Homo sapiens: one gene and its partners. The protein of the gene in region 1 interacts with the protein of each later gene in a pairwise test. Each region holds a gene or a part of one and is shown in the gene's direction. Other genes may lie near its edges. The genes, in order: RAP2B, CAMK2B and PDE6D.

Region 1 (7,975 bases):
AAAAGGACCATTGATAAAGTAAAATATCCTAAGCCTACTAGTGGATATGTGGTCATGTTATAATATATTCAGTTACTTAACACATATTGAGAACACAGTAAGGCACAGTTATTCTCACACTTATACCTCCACTTTATTTATTTTTTTGAGATGGAGTCTCACTCTGTCACCCAGGCTGGAGTGCAGTGGCACAATCTCTGCTCACTGCAACCTCTGCCTCCCAGGTTCGAGTGATTCTCCTGCCTCAGCCCCCCCAAGTAGCTGGGACCACAAGCATGTGCCACCACACCCAGCCAATTTTTGTATTTTTAGTAGAGATGGGGTTTTGCCGTTTTGGCCAGGCTGGACTCAAACTCCTGACCTCGTGATCTGCCCGCCTCGGCCTCCCAAAGTGCTGGGATTACAGGTGTGAGCCATTGCGCCTGGCCTACTTCAGCTTTCAAATAATGATATATGGTCACTATCAACTTACCTTTGATGCTTTCAAAATTAGAATTTGTTCAGAATTTTTTGTTTACCTATAGGTGACACTAACTAAAACTATGAACATTATGAAACAAACCTCCACTTACCTAGTACAAATGAAAAGAACAAGCGGGTAGTTATTTTCTTGAGGACGTAAAACAGTCACATTCTAAGAAATCTAATTCTTTCAAGACCCAACCTGTGTATCTTGGAAGGAGGTCACTCTGTGAGCAAAGGTTAGGAATGGGACCCCTGTTTATGCAAAGTATCAAAGTTAAGCTGTCTCTTCCTGATAGCTTTTATGTTAGATTGTTTTTCAAAAATGCCTTTCCACATAATCTGAAAATGTCTTCTTCAGACAAAAGCTTTATCCATTGGATGCTTTGGTATCTTTCCTCAAGATAGCACTGATTTAGTGTTTTCACCCCAATAAATGAAGACTTTGATCACTCCAGCATCTTTGTGACTCAGGGAGACAGACTGACACATTAGTATACATTTTTCTGTGGATCGAAAACATGTTATGTCTTATCAAGGATTGATATGATCTTCTAACACAAATAGAGTTTGGAAAAGGATAAAATACCATTCACACATTCATTAATAAATATTTGAGGGCTTTCTACGGTACTAAGTGCTGTGAAGGACAAAGGTGGCTCTAAAGATAAACTAGACATGGACCTTGCCCTTGAGTATTTCACATGGTGCTTAAGGTGACCAGACTTAGTTATGGAAATGTAATAATTATAGTACAGGATAGATAATGTTTCACGCTGTGAGTGGGGGTAAAAATATTCCTAACAAATTTTACATGAAGAAATGATCAACCCTAAAAATTTGTACACTGGGCCGGGCACAGTGGCTCATGCCTCTAATCCCAGTACTTTGGGAGGCTGATGTGGGCAGATCACCTGAGATCAGGAGTTCGAGACCAGCCTGGCCAACATGATGAAACCCTGTCTCTACTAAAAATACAAAAATTAGTTAGGCGTGGTGGCACGCCCCTGTAATCCCAGTTACTCAGGAGGCTGAGGCTGGAGAATCACTTGAACCTGGGAGGCAGAGGTTGCAGTGAGCTGAGATCGTGCCATTGCACTCCAGCCTGGGCGACAGAGCAAGACACTGTCTCAAAAAAAAAAAAAAATTGTACATTTTTCATTGCTTCATTTGAAATCCCAAAGGTCCAATATAAATCTTTCTGTGGAAGACCATCTGAATGTAATAAAAATTGCTATTGAAGAATCCCTAATAAAAAGTATTCAAATTGTGGCATCTTTCTGGTACTGAGGAGGCCATAAAGGTTCAGTAATACCCATCCACATGGCTACCTAGAGTCTTAGGAATGGTCATTTCTCAAGGGACTGTCAGGCTGTCTGGGTCTGAGCAGTAATTTGATGCACGTATGGGGTGCTGCAGCTTTAGAAACATGTTTCCGTCTATTATCTGTTAATTATTATCCCTCTGGACAGCCTGGCACATGGTAAGGGCAGCTAAGACAGCAGGGTCCTAATTCTGCTCAGCTCTCTCTGCTGTAAAATGATTGATTTGGTGACCGGATTTTCTCCAAGTTTCCTTGTGTAGGTAGGTGCGTAGGGCAAATTATATTATCACCATTTTATAGAAAGGGAAACTAAGGTTAGGAGAGCTTAAGTGACTCGCCTAAGGCCTCTGATAATAACTGATATCCAATACTTGAGATTAGACTTCAGGCCCAGAAGGACAAAGCATCTGCTTCTATATCACACTCAGAACCACACCTAATATTTGTGGTTAAGAGTACCAATAGAGGCCCACATAGCATTAACCTAAGTATTTAAGTCATAAATCAAGATAACAAACTGTTAAACAAAATATGATCTGTCCTCCCACCTTGACAAATACCTCCTACACGGAGCTGGATGGCCAGTTGTGAACTATGAATTCCTGGACTTCTCTAAGGGCCAGGCTGGAAGGTGTCATGGAGGATAAAGCTGATCGCGAATGATCCCTCTTCCTGCATTACGAGGGGCCCAAAGCACCTGGGAGTGCACACCTTAGCCCACAGGTCCAGGTACTGTCCACACCCCAAAGAAGAGCTATTTCTTGGACACAGGAGTGAGTTCAGAGTCCCGACCAGATCCTGAAAGTGAACTTGGCACCATTTGGGCAGAGCAGTCCAGAGTTCTGACTACATGGAGCGTATGTAGTCTAGAAGAGGGTCAGGCTCCAGCTGGGCCATCAGCCTGACCGGAAGAGGGGCACTGCCAGAGGAGAGCCAGAGGGTGGCTGTGGGCGGAGGTCCCTCTTGGGTTTAAGAGCCAGTCTGATCACACAGCCTCTAAAATCACCCTAAGAAAGAATAACATACCGGAACATTCATGTGACGGGTAAGTATGGTCCAGTGGTTATGAGACTAGGCTCTGCAGGCAAATCCCTGGGTTGGAATCTTAGGTTGGCCACTTTCTAGTTGTGGCATCGCAGGCAAATTATTGATCATCTCACAGCCTCAGTTTCCTCATCTTTAAAATGGGTAAATAATCATTATTATGAGGAGTGGCAGTATATGTAAAACGCTTGGTGGACATTACACATTGGGTGGATGTTGACAGGGTTCTCTCCAGCTTAGGCGAGTTTGCCTCTGAGAGGTTTTTCTGGAGAATTATATAAGCTTCATAACATCCAAGCACTCTGACAGTCAAGGTGAAAGTCTCCTCTCTCTACTAAATTGGGGTGAGGCGCGGGTGTGGGCACCACCCACCCCACCCAAGGCATCAGGGGCAGCCCACGTCCCGCCCGGTTCTGTGCCCAAGGACTTCACGCTGCAGACGTGCACGGAAGCTGCTTTGGCCAGGGGTTTGGAGGTTAACTAGCAAACGCAGCGTGAGTCACGGCGGCACTAGGAACTGAAACCGTGTTAGCCATGCCCAGGTTTACCCTCCGATGCGGACGGTGAAACCAGGGAGCAGTGACATCAGGACGGGGAGCCAGCGCTGACGCAGCTCCACCGCCTCCCTCCCCATCCCGCACCCGCCGCCGCCGAGCTCAGCCTGCAGACAGGTCTTGACATCCCTCCTCAGCGAGGAGCGAGGGAGTCGGAACAAGTCGGGGCATCTCCCTTGCACCTCCCGGGAGCGCCAGCCCAGCCAAGTCTAGCGATTGCCCGGCCCGCCAGCGAAGACGCTTCCTCTGAAGCAAGCTTGGACACTCCCCTACCCCTCCGGGTGAAACGAATTCCAAGTGGCCCATTTCGGCTCCTCGCCCCCTCCCACTCCCTGCAAAAAAACTTGGCAACTCTGCGGTTTCTTGCGGACCAAAACCTGTAATTAGCCCTTTGTGCTCCCTTTAAGGGGCAGTCGTGACTGGAAACCGAGGAGTCAGACCCTCTCGAAAACACCAACAAAGAACTATATTTAGTTCTGAGCTCTCAGCCTAAATGCCTCTTATTTTTTCACTTTTACTTCAAAACGCCAGGGTTGGGGAAGTGGGAGGCAGAGGGTGGGGGAGCAACGGAGAAAGAACAGCTGTGCCTCCGCCTCTCCGCTCAATCTCTATAAATAACCAATCGCGAGCGGAGGCTACTTTTTAGCCAATGAAGCGCCCCAAACTGATAAAGCCTTGGCGGCAGCCAATGAACAACACTTAGGGGTGTCAGACTCGCGCCCCGAGACCAATGAGTGCAGAGTCTGGGAGAGGTAATTTGAGCTAGAGTGTGGGTGTGTGGTGCAAAAGCTTCCTACTTCCAAGCCCAAAAACCTGCTCTGCGACTGAGCATGCCCTGAACTAACTGCGGGCGCCCTGAGACTTCTGGATTGGGATGTAATCCGGTCTCCGGGTTTTGACCGCACTCGAGCGGGGAGGTGGGTACGACCCGCGGGACCCTGCCCCGAGAGAGCTGCAGGTACCAGAAGCTACCCCTTTCCTAGTCGGAACAGTATCTCAGACTTGGAGTACCTCCTGTTTTCTTTGTGCAAGGCTGCAGTGCACAGAGTCGGTCAGAGAAGACAGAGTAGCGTTTCTGTGGCGAACGGTTTAGAAAAATCTATGGGGCAGGTTTGCTCCGCCGGCTGCTCGTGCATTCCACGGCACCCACAGGACTTCGGGTTTCCGGCCCCCAGACCCACGCCCGCCCGGGGCTGAGTGAATGGCGTCCTTGGGCCTTTGATAACGGGAGTTGGCAAGACCACAGCCTACTCCATCCCTGAGGCGGCCCGCCGCGCCCACGTGCTTCTCGCAGAGCCGCCGCCCTTGTCCACCACTCCCACAGCTGTAAAATAAAGCGGCCTGCATGCTTCCTACAGCGCTTTCCTCGCTCCCATATACGCACACACACCCCATCTTCCAGCCAGTTCCTAACTCGCGCCACTCCCCAAATCGGACTCAAATCCGGAGCCCCGCCCACTGCCCCGCCCCCTCCCGGCCCCGCGGAAAACCAGGAGCGGCCGCTTGGGCAAGGCGCGGCCGGAACGCACTGGGCATGCTCGCCGGGGAGGGGCGGGCCGGGCTGCGCGCGGCGAGTAGGAAGCCCTCGCCCAGTAGAGGCTGTGGGAGAGAGCGCGATGGGCCGCGGCGGTGGGCGCACGTTCCGCGGGGACTCATGCCACGCGCGTCCCGGCCCGACGCGCAATTAGCAGCCACCTCCGCAGCCCGCCGCCACCGCCTCCCTGCCCTCCCGGGCTGCCGCAGCTAGGAGCTCCAGCCGTCGCCTCGCGCAGGCTGCGGGCATTGTCCTCTCGGTTCGCCGCCCGGGCTGCTGCTGCCGCCGCGGACTGCTGCGGGGCCCGGACCCGCACCCCAGGGATACGCTGCCGCCGCCGCCGGCCGGCCCGGCGCCCGGCCTCCGTTCGGTGGTTTCCGCCCTGCGTTCTCTGGGTTGCTCTCTCCTGGGTTTTTCCTGCGTAGCTGAGGAAGGGGAAGAGAAGTCCAGCCGCCAAGCCCAGCCTTCCCCGGCGCGCAGCCCCGACGGGGCCGCGGCAGGCGCGGCGAGAGCGCTGACGGAGCCATGAGAGAGTACAAAGTGGTGGTGCTGGGCTCGGGCGGCGTGGGCAAGTCCGCGCTCACCGTGCAGTTCGTGACGGGCTCCTTCATCGAGAAGTACGACCCGACCATCGAAGACTTTTACCGCAAGGAGATTGAGGTGGACTCGTCGCCGTCGGTGCTGGAGATCCTGGATACGGCGGGCACCGAGCAGTTCGCGTCCATGCGGGACCTGTACATCAAGAACGGCCAGGGCTTCATCCTGGTCTACAGCCTCGTCAACCAGCAGAGCTTCCAGGACATCAAGCCCATGCGGGACCAGATCATCCGCGTGAAGCGGTACGAGCGCGTGCCCATGATCCTGGTGGGCAACAAGGTGGACCTGGAGGGTGAGCGCGAGGTCTCGTACGGGGAGGGCAAGGCCCTGGCTGAGGAGTGGAGCTGCCCCTTCATGGAGACGTCGGCCAAAAACAAAGCCTCGGTAGACGAGCTATTTGCCGAGATCGTGCGGCAGATGAACTACGCGGCGCAGCCCAACGGCGATGAGGGCTGCTGCTCGGCCTGCGTGATCCTCTGAGGCGGCCACCGCGCGCCGGCCGCGCTCTGCGCACAAAAGCCAAACGCATCCGACTCTCTAAATGTGATTTATTTCTTGCTTTGAGATTGGAGACCACTTTGCATTGGCCAGGGTGTCTTGGGAGCCCGGCTGGCCTCCGCGGCCGGCGTCCCCTGCCTCCACCCTGTGCCCGAGGGGGTGTCCGGTCCTGCCCATCCGATACTCTGGTGGAAATGTGGCTCTTTGCAGCATGTACGTTTCTCCCTGATTTTGGTTGATGCATATTTCCCCGTTTAAGTAGCCGTTAGGGCGCAGTATCGGCAGCTTGACACCCACCAAGCAAAAGTTTCAGCCTGGAAAAAAAATGGGGGGGAAGGGTGGATGAAAAGGAGGGAGAGAAGGTGGAAATGGTTTTTTTTTTTTTTTTTCTATTTTCTTTCTTTTTTTTTTTTTTTTTTTTTGGTCAACAGCCGTTTTTCTAGTTCCAAGTTTTAAATACATGGAAGGAAGTCCGGGAGAACCATATGAAGGAGCAGGAGGAGAGGAAGAAACTTTTTTTCCTTCTTTTCCAGGAGTAGCTGGAAATTAAGATCGGGTTCCTTTTCTGCCAGCTTGGAAGGGCAACCCCATGACTGATTGCGATTCTGAGGATGTCTATGCAAAGTTGGATTCTTGTTACAGTGTATCCAATCTGAAGTATTGCACATCTGAACTGGGACTGTTAACACTGATGCCAATACAGTGTGGGGTGCCAGAAAGTGTCTGCTGATATTTGTGGAAAAAAAATCTATTTTGTTTACCTACTGTATCAAAGGGGAGTCTGGGGGAGAATGGTAGTATTTTTTTTTTTTATCAGCTGTGAAAAAAATGTTACAGATCTGCACATTTTCGTGTGTACTATGGTGTGTGTGTGTATGTGTGTGGTGTGTGTGTGTTTTAAGTTTAGCCTTTTGTTTTTGTTTTTTGGTTGGCAGTAACCGATTTTAATGACTAGCTTTTAAAAATACAGTACAAAGACTTTGTAAATGTGATTCAGGGCCCCCAGCACCCCTGTGTCTGCAGAGTGCCTTCAAAACTCAGCTGTTCCAGCCGGTGCCAACCTGTGAACTTCCCACCATATCCCAGAATCTGCTATTCCCCAAACCACTTCCCAGTTTCCTTTCAGTAATCTTTCTGAAGGAGCCAGGACAATAGGGCCTGTTGTTTAGTGAATTTCTTTATTATTTTCAGCCTTTAAAATGTAATTTCCATCTCTTGCAATGAATTTGTTTCCCTTTTTTTTGCTTCATTTTGTTTAAATTTTCAGGTATTTAGCTCCCCTTTCATATTATTTTTAAATTTTTTAATTACCTGTTGTAGGGTGTTCCTCCAGAAGCAAAGAGCAAAATTTTACTGTTGTGATGTACCAATTCTAACTAATTGTAATTTTTAATTTCATGCGTTTAATCATTGTCTCTTCATTTTAAGACTTTTAATACAAATGTCATTTTTAAAGAAACAAACCCAAAACTATTGTTTGTGTTTCTGTGTTTCATATTCAGTGATTTAATACAGTATCATGGCTGAGGTGGATGGGGCAGGTGCATGATACTCTTCAGAGCTATTTGTGAAATTTTAAAGACAGAAGTGTCTCAGTGACAAGTTGGATGACACTACTCCCAACTTTTTAAATTTGGAGAAAACCATCAAGGTCGAGGAAGCCCTGGGTATGGCCATTACCATCTGATTAGAAGATGAACAGGTATTTTGAATCTGATCTGACATGGAACAGTTTACCTCATTGTAGGTAGGGAACAAGAGAACCCATCTATTAAAATTGCCTTAGATCTGGGAAAGTAACCATCCTTCTGGCAAAGTAGGATGGCACTTTTAAGTTTTTCTTCCTTTTTTCCCTCTGTTTATATTGCACATCAAGTCAAAAACATGTTTGGGAAAGATGGTTTTCAATTCTGAAGTTATACCTAGTGATGTTTTTTGCAGTACATTTGAATGGATTGTAGA
Region 2 (7,168 bases), on another chromosome or scaffold:
AGGCCAAGGTTCCTGGAGCCCTGTGCGGATCTGCAGAGCTCCTGGGAACGCCTCACCCTGTATTTTGGATGACACCGGCTGCTGCTTCATTGGAACCAGCCAGTCCCATTGTGTTTTACGTCTTGGAATTTCAAAAAGCCCATTTTCCTCTCTTGTTAAAGAGTCAGCTGAGCATACCAGTCTCTCTGCCAGGCTCATCTTGCTGGGAGAAGTGGAGCCCTCATGTGTTGGGGATGCAGGGTGGCCACAGCACTAGGGTGGCAGGGCCGGCCTCGGACTCCGTGCCAGCCTGTGCTGGCTGCCGTGAGAATGCACCCTGGTGAGGGGCGCCCTCCCAGGGACCAGCACAGAACTGGGTGTCTTCTCCGGTCACTGCCGCATGAGGTCCACAGAGCTGGGGCCCTGCAGCCGCCAGAGGGCATGTCCCCTGAGCCCCTGGCCTTTAAGCCCCGTGGAAGCAGCCGAGGCAGAGATCAGCTTCAGAGCCTGGGCTGGTCCTGACACAGGCCCAGCCCTGTCCACCTGCCCTCAGCCACGTCCCACCTATCCTTGGCCGCATCCTGACCCGCTGCCTCCCGTGTTTCCTCAGGAGTCTTCTGACAGTGCCAATACCACCATAGAGGATGAAGACGCTAAAGGTACCTGCACTTGAGTCCTTGCCCCCCCAGCGGCCTTGGCATTGCTGGGTTGCTCTTTGAGGTGGGTGGGACTTGGGCAGGGTCAACTCTCCTGCGACGCCTAGTTTATGCATGTGTTGAGGGGCTCAGGGACCCTGTAGCTGTAATCCTGCTCCAAGCCTGGGTGTCAGGCCTGCCCAGAGCGGAGAAGCATGGCAGAGATGACCGACAGCTGGGCAGTCTCGGTCACCGCATCCAAGTGAGGAAGCCACGGCTTTGCATGGAGGCAGGTTCTCCACACCAGGACCCTCACGGGGAAACAGGCCCATGGGTAGAATTTGTTCCAAGATGCTGTCCTTGTCTTAAAGCTCCTTAAGCTTGCGTTTCTGTCCAGCATGCACTTGCCAAGTGGCCGGGCAGCTGGGTGAGTGTTTCCGTGTTTGCCTTTGCTTAGCCAGGAGTGTCCTGCTGCGGTGGGTTTCTGCACCACAGATTCCAGGGCCCCCTCCCTTGCTCACCCAGGCCAATGTCTTGTGTGTTCCCCAAGAGGCCCCCAGGGCACCAGGCACTGGGGCATGCTCCATGGATTCTGCCGCCTCCAGACCACCCACATGGGGCCTCCTGACCCTCATCGCTCACACGGTCACCTAATAAGCCTTATGCTGTTCTCAGGGCTACCCTGGTGCCCAAAAAGGGTCAGCCACTCTGCCAGTTTAGGGGAGAAAACTTCTCACCTGTCCAAAGCATAGCCTTGCTCCTGCCCGGCCTACCCAGCTATGACACTGTCCCTGAGCAGAGATGAGCACAGGACTTTGGGCCCTGGATGCCGGAGAGTGGGTGTTTGTGTGATTCCCCTGCAGTCTGGAACAGGCCCCAAAGGCAACAGCATGAAGGCTGTCCAGAGGTTCTCCATCACCCTCAGCCGAGTGGGGTGCTGAGCAGTGAGGGAGGGGACCTGGGAGGGGGGCCCAGCCTGGATCCTGCAGGGGAGAAGAGAAGACAGCCAGAAGCCAGCAGCTGTGGCTCAGATCTGAGCCCGAGCAGCCTCTCGAGGTGGAGGCAGACACCCCCCACCCCACCCCGTGCAGAAAGAAGCCTTGCCAGCCTGCCCTGAGGCTGGTACAGAGTCCAGGCAGGCTCAGTGGCCATCATGCCCCTACGATGACTGTCACTCCCTCTCCGTGCGCCTGGCCTCTGCTGGCTCTGGCCAGGGGTGGTCACAGCACTAGGGTGGCAGGGTGGCCTCTGACTCTGCGCCAGCCTGCACTGGCCTGTGCTGCCCTGGCCTCTGCTGGCTCTGGCTCTGGCACCGGTCCCGTGTTGGCTCCTTCAGCCTTCACATACCTGCTGCGGCCACCACAGGCCCAGGACCCCCACAGGTGGCCACCCCACCTCCACCCCAGGAGCCCCAGGTATCCAGCTGTCACCCCCTCCCTCCCTCCTGGCCTCCCCCTGTCCTTCTCCAGTTGCCTTCTTTTCCTGCGGGCGCACCACCCACCTGCCTGCCTCACCTGTTCCGCCTCAGCCCCCAGGGTCCCCGACATCCTGAGCTCAGTGAGGAGGGGCTCGGGAGCCCCAGAAGCCGAGGGGCCCCTGCCCTGCCCATCTCCGGCTCCCTTTAGCCCCCTGCCAGCCCCATGTAAGTAGCCTGGGTCCTGCTGCTGTGGGGGTCATGTTGGAGGGCTGGCAACCCCCTAGAGGGGCCACTCCAGAGCCGAGGGCAGGCTGAGCGTGGACCCTGGCTCCAGCCTCATCACCCCACAATCCCTCACTGGGGCTTTCCAGGGTGGCCCCAGCCCATCGAGCCCCACCTCTTTGTGAGGAGGGCCCTGGACCACTTTCCTGCTCAAGGCCACTGGGCAGGATGGGAGGCCCTGGAGGCTCGGGCCTCAATTCCAGTCTTCAGGGTCGGTGCAGGCCTCACTCCACCTCAGCTTGCGGGCGGGGGGGCTCCCTGCTATTGAGGCAGGCTCTGATTCAGGGCCTGATCCCAGGGCCCAAGGGGTCTAGAACACGGGACCCCTCCCACTGGCCTCCTCCGCCTTGCCGCCGCCTCGTGTGTCTGTCTGCCTCATGTTCACGTCTCATCTGTTCCACCCCAGCCCCCAGGATCTCTGACATCCTGAACTCTGTGAGAAGGGGTTCAGGAACCCCAGAAGCCGAGGGCCCCCTCTCAGCGGGGCCCCCGCCCTGCCTGTCTCCGGCTCTCCTAGGCCCCCTGTCCTCCCCGTGTAAGTAGTGGCCCCCAGGCCTGCCGCCTCTGCTGCCGGACAGCTCCCTGCGAATGGCCGGCGCTCAGCAGCTTCCCACCTGCATGCACGGCCCAGCTACCCTGCCCCGGCGCCGCAGCCTGGAGTCCTGCCCTGGCGGGGCTTCCTGTGGGCTCCCATGCTAACCAGCAGGGCAGCTCCTGGCTTCTCCCTAAGGGGCCCAGACCCCTCCACGGCTCCTGCTCCCACTGCCACTCCCCGCTCGCTGTCCAGCCCCAGGCCCCTCTCCAAAATGTCTGTCCCAGCCCTGGGCAGCCCTGGCCCCTCCGAGGCCCCCCATGCCCCTAGGCCCTCTCTGCTGATCACTGTCCCAGCCCCACAGACTTCACACCCACCCAGGGGCCCTGCCCATGGTGCCCAGGAGCTGCACTCAGGGCCACCCTGGTTCCTGATGTGGCCCCAACCCCTGAGCACCCTCCCTCAGTCTAGGAGGCTGAGGAAGGTGCCAAAACTGGAACCCCGACCAGGGTCTCTGGAGCTCACCAACAAGGGGATAGTACGGAGAATCATAAGCCTGGCCTCTGCTGACCTGGGCTGTCCTCATGGGGCCAGGCCAGGCCTCCTCTGTAACGCCCGTGACTCCCTCCTCTCCCTGTAACCCCGTCCAGCGTTCCTCAAGGGCCACTTACCTGACAGCTTCTTGCTGGCCAGCAGCCTCTCCCTGGAGGGTGCCCTCTGCCCCCAGCAGCTTCAGCCCACGCCACCCGACAGCCAGAGCATCTGCCCTTCACTCCTGCAGCCTCCTCTCCACGCACCACGCTGTCCGCAGCAGCACCCTCTGTCCCCCTGTCTCCCTCCGTCCCCCCATATCCCCCTCGGTCAGCCTACAACCTCTCCACGTCCCCCTAAGTCCACGCTCTATCCCTACATCCCCCTCTGTCCCCCAAATTCCCCTCTTTCCCTCATTTCCATTTTCCTCCCCAAACTCTGCTCTGCCCCTCACATTCTCCCTCTGTCCCCCACACCCTCCTCTGTCCCCCAGACTCTCCCTCTGTCCCCCACACCCTCCTCTGTCCCCCATATACCCCTCTGTCCCCCACACCCACCTTGGTCCCTTCACGCCCTTTTCTGTCCCCCACACCCCCTCTGTTCCCTACACTCTCCCTCTGTCCTCCAGACCCTCCTCTGTCCCCCACACTCCCTCTGTCCCCCACACCCCCTGTCCCCCACACTCTCCCTCTGCCCCCCAGACCCTCCTCTGTCCCCTACACTCCCTCTGTCCCCCATATCCCCCTCTGTCCCCCACACCCTCCTCTGTCCTCCACCCCCTGCCCCCCATACCCCCTTCTGTCCCCCACACTTCCTCTGTCTTCCACACCCCCTCCTGTCCCCCACACCCCCTCTGTCCCCCAGACTCTCCCTCTGTCCCCCACACTCCGTCTGTCCCCCACACCTCCTGTCTTCCACACCCCCTTCTGTCCCCCACACCCCCTCTGTCCCCCATACTCTCCTCTGTCCCCCACCTCCCCCTCTGTTCCCCACACCGCCTTCTGTCCCCCACACCCCCTCTGTCTTCCACTTCCCCTCTGTCCCCCACATCCCCCTCTGTCCCCTGCACCCTCCTCTGTCCCCTGCACCCTCCTCTGTCCCCTGCACCTCTCTCTGTCCCCCACATCCCCCTCTGTCCTCCACACTCCCTCTGTCCCCCACATCCACCTTGGTCCCCTCACGCACCCCCATCCCCCATGACCCCTTCTGTCCCCCACACCCCCTCTGTCTTCCACACCCCCCTCTGTCCCCCACACCCACCTTGGTCCCCTCATGCCCCCCATCCCCTACACCCCCACTTTGTCCCCCCACATGCCCCTCTGTCCCCCACGTTCCCTTCTGTCTCCCACGTCTCCTCCATTTCCCGTTTCCCTCTCTGTCCCCCAAGCTCCCCTCCATCCCCCACATCCCCTTCTTTCCCCTATATCCCCTCTGTCGGCCCAGGTCCACCATCTTCCCCCCACACCCCCCCATTCTCCCTTCCTCCCCTCTGTCCCCTTGTGCCCCATCCCCCACATCTGCCTCTGTGCCCCTCAATCTCTGGCTTGGCTGTCTGCCCATGGTTTCTCTCCTGCGTGCCCCCCGTGCCTGCCTTGTGTTCACGTCTCGTCTGTTCCGCCCCAGCCCCCAGGATCTCTGACATCCTGAACTCTGTGAGGAGGGGCTCAGGGACCCCAGAAGCCGAGGGCCCCTCGCCAGTGGGGCCCCCGCCCTGCCCATCTCCGACTATCCCTGGCCCCCTGCCCACCCCATGTAAGTAGCACCTTGAGTGGCCGTGGCAGCGGCTGCCCGGAGGGGCTCGGGGCGTGCGAGCCTGGCAGTGGTGCTCTGGGAAGGGCCATTCTTGCGGAGGAGGGCGGGGCACAGGATCCCTCTGCTGGGTCCCAGGGAATTGCTTTGAAGCACATGAAGGTGCCACTGGGTCTCAGAAAATGGAGGTTATGGTTATGAAGTGTGTATGACATATGTGTATAGGAAGAGCGTCCGAAAGAGCAGGTTTGTTGCCGACCCCAGCATTCGCAACCCTGAGGTCCACAGCTTTCTCCTGATGGGAGGGGAATGGGTGGCAAAGGGTCTGCGCGTGTGGCAAGGGCTAGCACGCCAGGAGCTGCTGGCTTGGGTCAAGGTGGACCTGCTGGGCCGGGACAGAAAAGTGTCAGTCCCGGCCTGAGACGCTCTAGCATTAGAGCTGTCCAAGTCCAGACAGCAGGGAGCAGGTGGGGATCGGGAGGCGCGGATCTGGGGGGCAGCTGGGGCCAGGCTGAAACAGAGCGGGCGGGACAGGAAGCACAGGCTGGGCAGCCTCCCCGGCCAGGGAGGAGCCAGGCTGGGCCACCTCCCGGTCTGTCTGCCGACTACCCGCAGTATCACTTACAGGGATGGATGACATCCCAGGGCTGCTGCCACCCCCACCTGTGGGGAGACACCAGACTGGGGGTGGTGTGGAGATACTCTTAGAGAAGAGGCTGCTGGGCCACGGGCTCGGCATGGCAGGGCAGTGGCTAGGTAAGTACTTGAGGGACAGGTGGGGTCTGCTTGCCACCGTCCCCTCTGCAGGCTGGGCCTGGGGGCTGCTGCAGGCGGCCAGGGCAGAAGGGTGTGGGGAGAGTGAACCCACAGGAGCAGCGGCTCGAGGAGGGGGATGCAGGCTGCAGGCTCAAAGGGGCACTGGATCCACCCTGGGTGCCCGAGAGAGCAGGGGGCAGCCCCTGGAGGGGTACTCACCCCCAGAGCTTCTGTGGTCGGCTGAGGACCCCCAGCAGGGGTTGACTGAGGGGATCAGAGGCAAGCAGCTGAGGGGAGAGGCCAGGTTCTTGATGCTGATAGGGTCGGGGTGCCTGGGCGACCAGAACTCAAGGAGGGAGGCATGGGGAGGGGCCGCCGTGCAGCTGGGGTGGGTGCACCGCAGAGCCTCTGGGAGTGGTCAGAACCCCCGACACCTGCCACTTCTACAGCAGCTCATCTGATTTTAAGGGGCTTGCTGCCCTTGCAGAAGTGGAGGGGTGTGCCCAAAGGAGCCTGCCTGGAAGGTCACCCCATCAGGTTGGCATGACCCCAGCCCAGGACTGCAGCCTGCCCTCAAGGTCTGTGCAGTATCTGGGGTGAGTCCTCTGAGGACAGGGCCCAGGGTGGGTGTGGAGTGGCCAGCTCGGGGCTCGGTGTCCAGGCTCACCTTCAGGGGCCACAGCACAGACCTGCCCTTCCAGAGTCTTCCCTGAGCTTGGCTGGGGAGGAGGGGGCTGCAGGAAGGAGCTGTGAGCAGGGCAGGATGGAGATTCGTGTGGCCCTCCTGGGAGGGGCTGGGCAGGGCTGGGAAAGGGGTGGGTGAGATGTTCCGGAACTCAGGGAAAGGAAGAGTCTGGGTACTGCCCTGGGGGCACCTGGGCCCAGGTGGCAGGTGGCCAGCTTTCTGCCTCCTTTCCACCTCCTTTCTCCAGAAGGCACCCACCAGCTGTGTAAATAGGGCAGGTGCCCACGGCCCGCCTCAGGCCCCGTCTCCTCCCCACCCACGCTCTCTAATCGCGGATTATACACAATCCAGCCTGATCCCTGGGCAGCTGCCCTCCCTCCCGCAGCCACCTCTGGCTCTGAGAGATGGGCTTGGGGCCAGCCTGGGGTCCCAGGAGTCCAGGCCAGGATGAGAACCTGCTCTGACCCCACCTGGACGCATTAGGCCTGCCTGGACCTGTTGCCTCACCCCAAGAGAGCCACAGGCAATGCAAAGGCTCCTGTTCATGTCAGGGCACCTGGAAGGCCTGACTTGCAGAGGCTCTTGGCTCGTGCAGACCCCTC
Region 3 (4,518 bases), on another chromosome or scaffold:
CAAAAAAAAAAGAGTTAGTCCCACAGATAATTGTGTAATATTGGATCATCTCTTTCAACAGTTCCTTTATGAAAGCCATATTGAATTTGTTAAAAATTGAGGTTATTGACTTTAAGGTTTTTTGTTTTTGTTTTGGGTTTTGTTTATTTTATTTTTTTAAAAAACAGGGTCTTGCCATGTTGCCCAGGCTGGACTCCAACTCCTGGGCTCAAGTGATCTTCCTAGCTCAGCCTCCTAAGTAGGTGAGACTACAGGCATGTGCCACCATGCCTGTCTCTACTTTTTAAGTTTTTTTTTTTTTTTTTGAGACAGAGTCTCGCCCTGTCACCCAGGCTGGAGTGCAGTGGCGTGATCTCAGCTCACTGCCAGCTCCGCCTCCCAGGTTCAAGCAACTCTCCTGTCTCAGCCTCCCAAGTAGCTGGGATTACAGGCATACACCACCACACCGGTTAATTTTTTTTTTGTATTTTTAGTAGAGACAGGGTTTCACCATATTGGTCAAGCTGGTCTCGAACTCCTAACCTCGGGTGATCCACCCGCCTCAACCTCCCAAAGTGCTGGGATTACAGGCATGAGCCACCGTGCCCAGCCCCTTTTTAAAGTTTTTAATAGTTTTTTTAACAGCCAGGTGTGGTGACACTTTCCTATAATCCTAGCTACTTGGGAAGCTGAGGCGGGAGGATTGCTTGAGTCCAAGAGTTTGAGACTAGCTTGGGCAACATAGATTTTGTAAGAGGCTGGGCGCAGTGGCTCACACCTGTAATCCCAGCACTTTGGGAAGCCAAGTCGGGTGGATCACGAGGTCAGGAAATCGAGACCATCTTGGCTAACACAGTGAAACCCCATCTCTACTAAAAATACAAAAAATCAGCTGGGCATGGCGGCACACGCTTGTAGTCCCAGCTACTCGGGAGGCTGAGGCAGGAGATCACTTGAATCTGGGTGCCGGAGGTTGCAGTGAGCCGAGATCACGCCTCTGCACTCCACCCTGGGTGACAGGGCGAGACTCCACCTCAAAAAAAAAAAAAAATTGTAATAGAATTTTTTAAAGTTTTAATAGTTTTAAAAGTAGATTTTTTTTTTTTTTTTTTGATATGGAGTCTCGCTCTGTTGCCCAGGCTGGAGTGCAGTGGCAAGATCTCGGCTCACTGCAAGCTCCACCTCCCAGGTTCCCATCTTTCTCCTGCCTCAGCCTTCCGAGTAGCTGGGACTACAGGCACCCGCCACCACGCCCAGCTAATTTTTCGTATTTTTAGTAGAGACGGGGTTTCACCATGTTAGCCAGGATGGTCTCGATCTCCTGACCTCGTGATCCGCCCGCCTCGGCCTCCCAAAGTGCTGGGATTACAGACGTGAGCCACCGTGCCTGGCCTAAAAGTAGATTTTTTAATTACAGTAGTAGCTATTTTTATATCTTATCAGCCAGTCAGATTCTGAGTACCTTATTTACCTGTTTTTTGGGGTTTTTTTTTTTGTTTTTTTTTTTGAGACGGAGTCTCGCTCTGTCGCCCAGGCTGGAGTGCAGTAGCATGATCCCAGCTCACTGCAACCTCCGCCTCCCAGGTTCACGCCATTCTCCTGCCTCAGCCTCCTGAGTAGCTGAGACTACAGGCACCCGCCACCACGCCCGGCTATTTTTTTTTTTTTATATTTTTAGTACAGACGGGGTTTCACCATGTTAGCCAGGATGGTCTCGATCTCCTGACCTCATGATCTGCCCGCCTCAGCCTCCCAAAGTGCTGGGATTACAGGCATGAGCCACCATGCCCGGCCTATTTACCTGTTTTATAATTAATTACCAGCAGAAATGTATCTGCTGGTTATTAATTACCCTGGGAAAGTACAGAGTAGTTTAGGAAAGCAGGGGTTTTTTTTTTTTAGATTTTATTAAACTTCATTTGACTTCTTCTTCACGAGGCGTGATTTTTTGTTGCTGTTTTTTTTTGAGACGGTCTCGCTCTGTCTCAAACCTATCATAAGATGAAAATATCATAAGTCAAAAATGCATTTAATATCCCCATAAATCCACTATAAAGTTGAAAGATCATAAGTTGATTCATTATAAGTAGGGAACCAACTATACTTAACTTTTTATTTTTTATTTTTTTTTATTTTTTTTGAGACAGAGTCTCGCTCTGTCGCGGAGGCTGGAGTGCAGTGGCGTGATCTCGGCTCACTGCAAGCTCCGCCTCCCGGGTTCCCACCATTCTCCTGCCTCAGCCTCCCGAGTAGCTGGGACTATAGGCGCCCGCCACCACGCCTGGCTAATTTTTTTGTATTTTTAGTAGAGACAGGGTTTCACCCTGTTTAGCCAGGATGGTCTCAATCTCCTGACCTTGTGATCCGCCCACCTCGGACTCCCAAAGTGCTGGGATTACAGGCATGAGCCACCGTGCCCGGCTACTTAACTTTTTAGAACCCCCAAAAACAGTTGCCCTAAACTCAGCTCAAGTGTGATTTGGTAAGGCCATGGTCTCTCCCATTTTACAAATGGGAGCACCGAGATACCCACCAAGAAAAATGAAATTCTTCCCTCACACCTCACAATACAGGTGCATCATTTAGTGTTCTGTAGTTGTAAGTCATAGAAACAGGCTCTGGCTAATACAAGAGCTGAAAGACTAAGGGGGAGAGCTGGGCGGCTTGGAAGATGCAGATGGGCAGGAATCCCTGGATGGCTTCCTCAAGGAGAAGCTACAGGAAGGATCTTGCTCAAGAGAAAGAGTCTGATTGGCCTAAGTTACATCCTCTGTTCACCCTTTTGCCAGGTGAGTGAGGGGCCACTCACTTGGCACATGGACTGGAGGAAGGGTGGTTCCCAAATGAAGAGCAAGGTGCTGTTACCCAAAGGCAGGAAAATAGATGTGGGCCAGGCCAAAGCCCACCTTTCGACTATTGTGAGTACTGTAGGGAAGGATACTGCCCCTGAGGTCTGCAGGCTTCTATATGTAAGCCAGCCAGAGGTGTCCATGAATGCAGTATCAGAAAGTCAGTCGGATCTATAAGCACCCTGTGTGCAGAGCACTCTACTAAGGGCTTTAGAGTGTACCAAGGAGTGGAGACATGCTCTCACTTCTGATTTGTGAGCTTGACAGGGATGAATGTAACCACATAAGTTAAATGTCATGTTAGACTTGTAGCCCCATATAGACAAGGATTTTAATGTCCCCAAGCTAAGACTCTGGGTGGGTGCATGTCCATTGGCCCAGGAATCCAGATGGAAACCACTTTGTGGAAATGAAATCTTGTGCCTAACATGCTCACTCTCTTTTGCCCTCTGTTTCTCTTCTTACTTACAGTGGGAACGTTATCATAGAAACAAAGTTTTTTGACGACGATCTTCTTGTAAGCACATCCAGAGTGAGACTTTTCTATGTTTGAAAGAAGAATGTGTGTACATTTCAAGAATTTGGGTTTTTTGGAGGGAGGAGGAAACTGTTTACTTTTTTCCTCCACACGTTTGATTTTTGACACATACACCCCTAATTCCCTCAACAGCAGAACCTACCTGCAGCCACCAGGGGACCAGCTCTGTGTAGGTAACCAGATGGCTCTTTTTCCCAAGCCACCATCTTCCAGCTGACCAGACTAAACTCCCAACCCCAGACCAGGGCAGGGGACAGGTCTCAAGTCCTTCCCAGCATACACACAGGGAACAAACACATACCACAAACCGGTAACTGTACCTGTCACCCTCCTTGTCTCCTCCTTGGGCCCTACAGGCTACACATCTACCTTTGGCCCCTGGTTTTGGAAAAATTCCGTGTTCCTGACCCATGTTTAGTTTTTTCCTACCATTTCTATTTCATACATTCTCATACATTTAACTTGTAAAATAGACTGTGATATTATTACATAATGTAATTAAAAATATGAATTAAAATATTCCTACAGTCTTTAGCATGGCACTGCTTTTATCTCTCCTTTTTCTGGAAAGTGAACCTGGCTGCATAATGGAAAGAAACCAAATATAAGATCACAACTGTATTTCACTCCAGGAATGGAACTGATAGATCTTGTTCCCTAGTGCCACAGTTACTGCTTTCCAAAATTGTGCAACATACTTGAACCAAACCCATGACCTTAACATTTGTCTTTTAGACACAATCTTTAATGGTTCTTTTCCACAACATACATGCACCCTTTGTTTGTTTATTATTGTTAATTTTTTCTATTTGTTTACAGTATTCATTTGTTCAAGAAGTTTCAAGAAAGGGCAATTCTAAGTTAGTAGAGTAGGGACTCTCATATTCCTAAATGAGACTAGAAGCTACAAAATGAAAAGATCTGCATGAACCTAACTGGAGAATGATGGGAAGGCGTCTGGGCTGGGAGGAGGCTGGGAGGCCTTTAAGACTGTCGTCATTGGAAGCCAGCGTGGGAGAGAAGGGATTACAACTGGCAGTGCTTTCAGGTCCGACATAAGAGAGAACACCAAAAAGTGTTCTTACCTCTGAGCTACTAGTAGCCTTCAGTGTCTTTTTTTGTTGTTTTGTTTTGAGACAGAGTCTCACTCTT

What was found.
Region 2: the proteins of RAP2B (region 1) and CAMK2B interact in binary tests that used the Homo sapiens proteins (3 or more experiments, as listed by UniProt).
Region 3: the proteins of RAP2B (region 1) and PDE6D interact in a two-hybrid assay, tested with the Homo sapiens proteins (one study listed by BioGRID).

What each region holds. Positions count from the first base shown.
Region 1 is NC_000003.12:153,157,251-153,165,225, forward strand, and holds the start of RAP2B (ras-related protein Rap-2b), read left to right. Parts: upstream 1-4,975; 5' UTR 4,976-5,443; coding exon 5,444-5,995; 3' UTR 5,996-7,975. UniProt on the Homo sapiens protein: Small GTP-binding protein which cycles between a GDP-bound inactive and a GTP-bound active form. Involved in EGFR and CHRM3 signaling pathways through stimulation of PLCE1.
Region 2 is NC_000007.14:44,224,476-44,231,643, reverse strand, and holds part of CAMK2B (calcium/calmodulin-dependent protein kinase type II subunit beta), read left to right. Parts: intron 1-589; coding exon 590-638; intron 639-2,142; coding exon 2,143-2,256; intron 2,257-2,719; coding exon 2,720-2,848; intron 2,849-4,999; coding exon 5,000-5,128; intron 5,129-5,752; coding exon of another isoform or gene 5,753-5,881; intron 5,882-6,330; coding exon of another isoform or gene 6,331-6,428; exon of another isoform or gene 6,429-6,459; intron 6,460-7,168. UniProt on the Homo sapiens protein: Calcium/calmodulin-dependent protein kinase that functions autonomously after Ca(2+)/calmodulin-binding and autophosphorylation, and is involved in dendritic spine and synapse formation, neuronal plasticity and regulation of sarcoplasmic reticulum Ca(2+) transport in skeletal muscle.
Region 3 is NC_000002.12:231,731,815-231,736,332, reverse strand, and holds the end of PDE6D (retinal rod rhodopsin-sensitive cGMP 3',5'-cyclic phosphodiesterase subunit delta), read left to right. Parts: intron 1-3,299; coding exon 3,300-3,381; 3' UTR 3,382-3,900; downstream 3,901-4,518. UniProt on the Homo sapiens protein: Promotes the release of prenylated target proteins from cellular membranes. Modulates the activity of prenylated or palmitoylated Ras family members by regulating their subcellular location.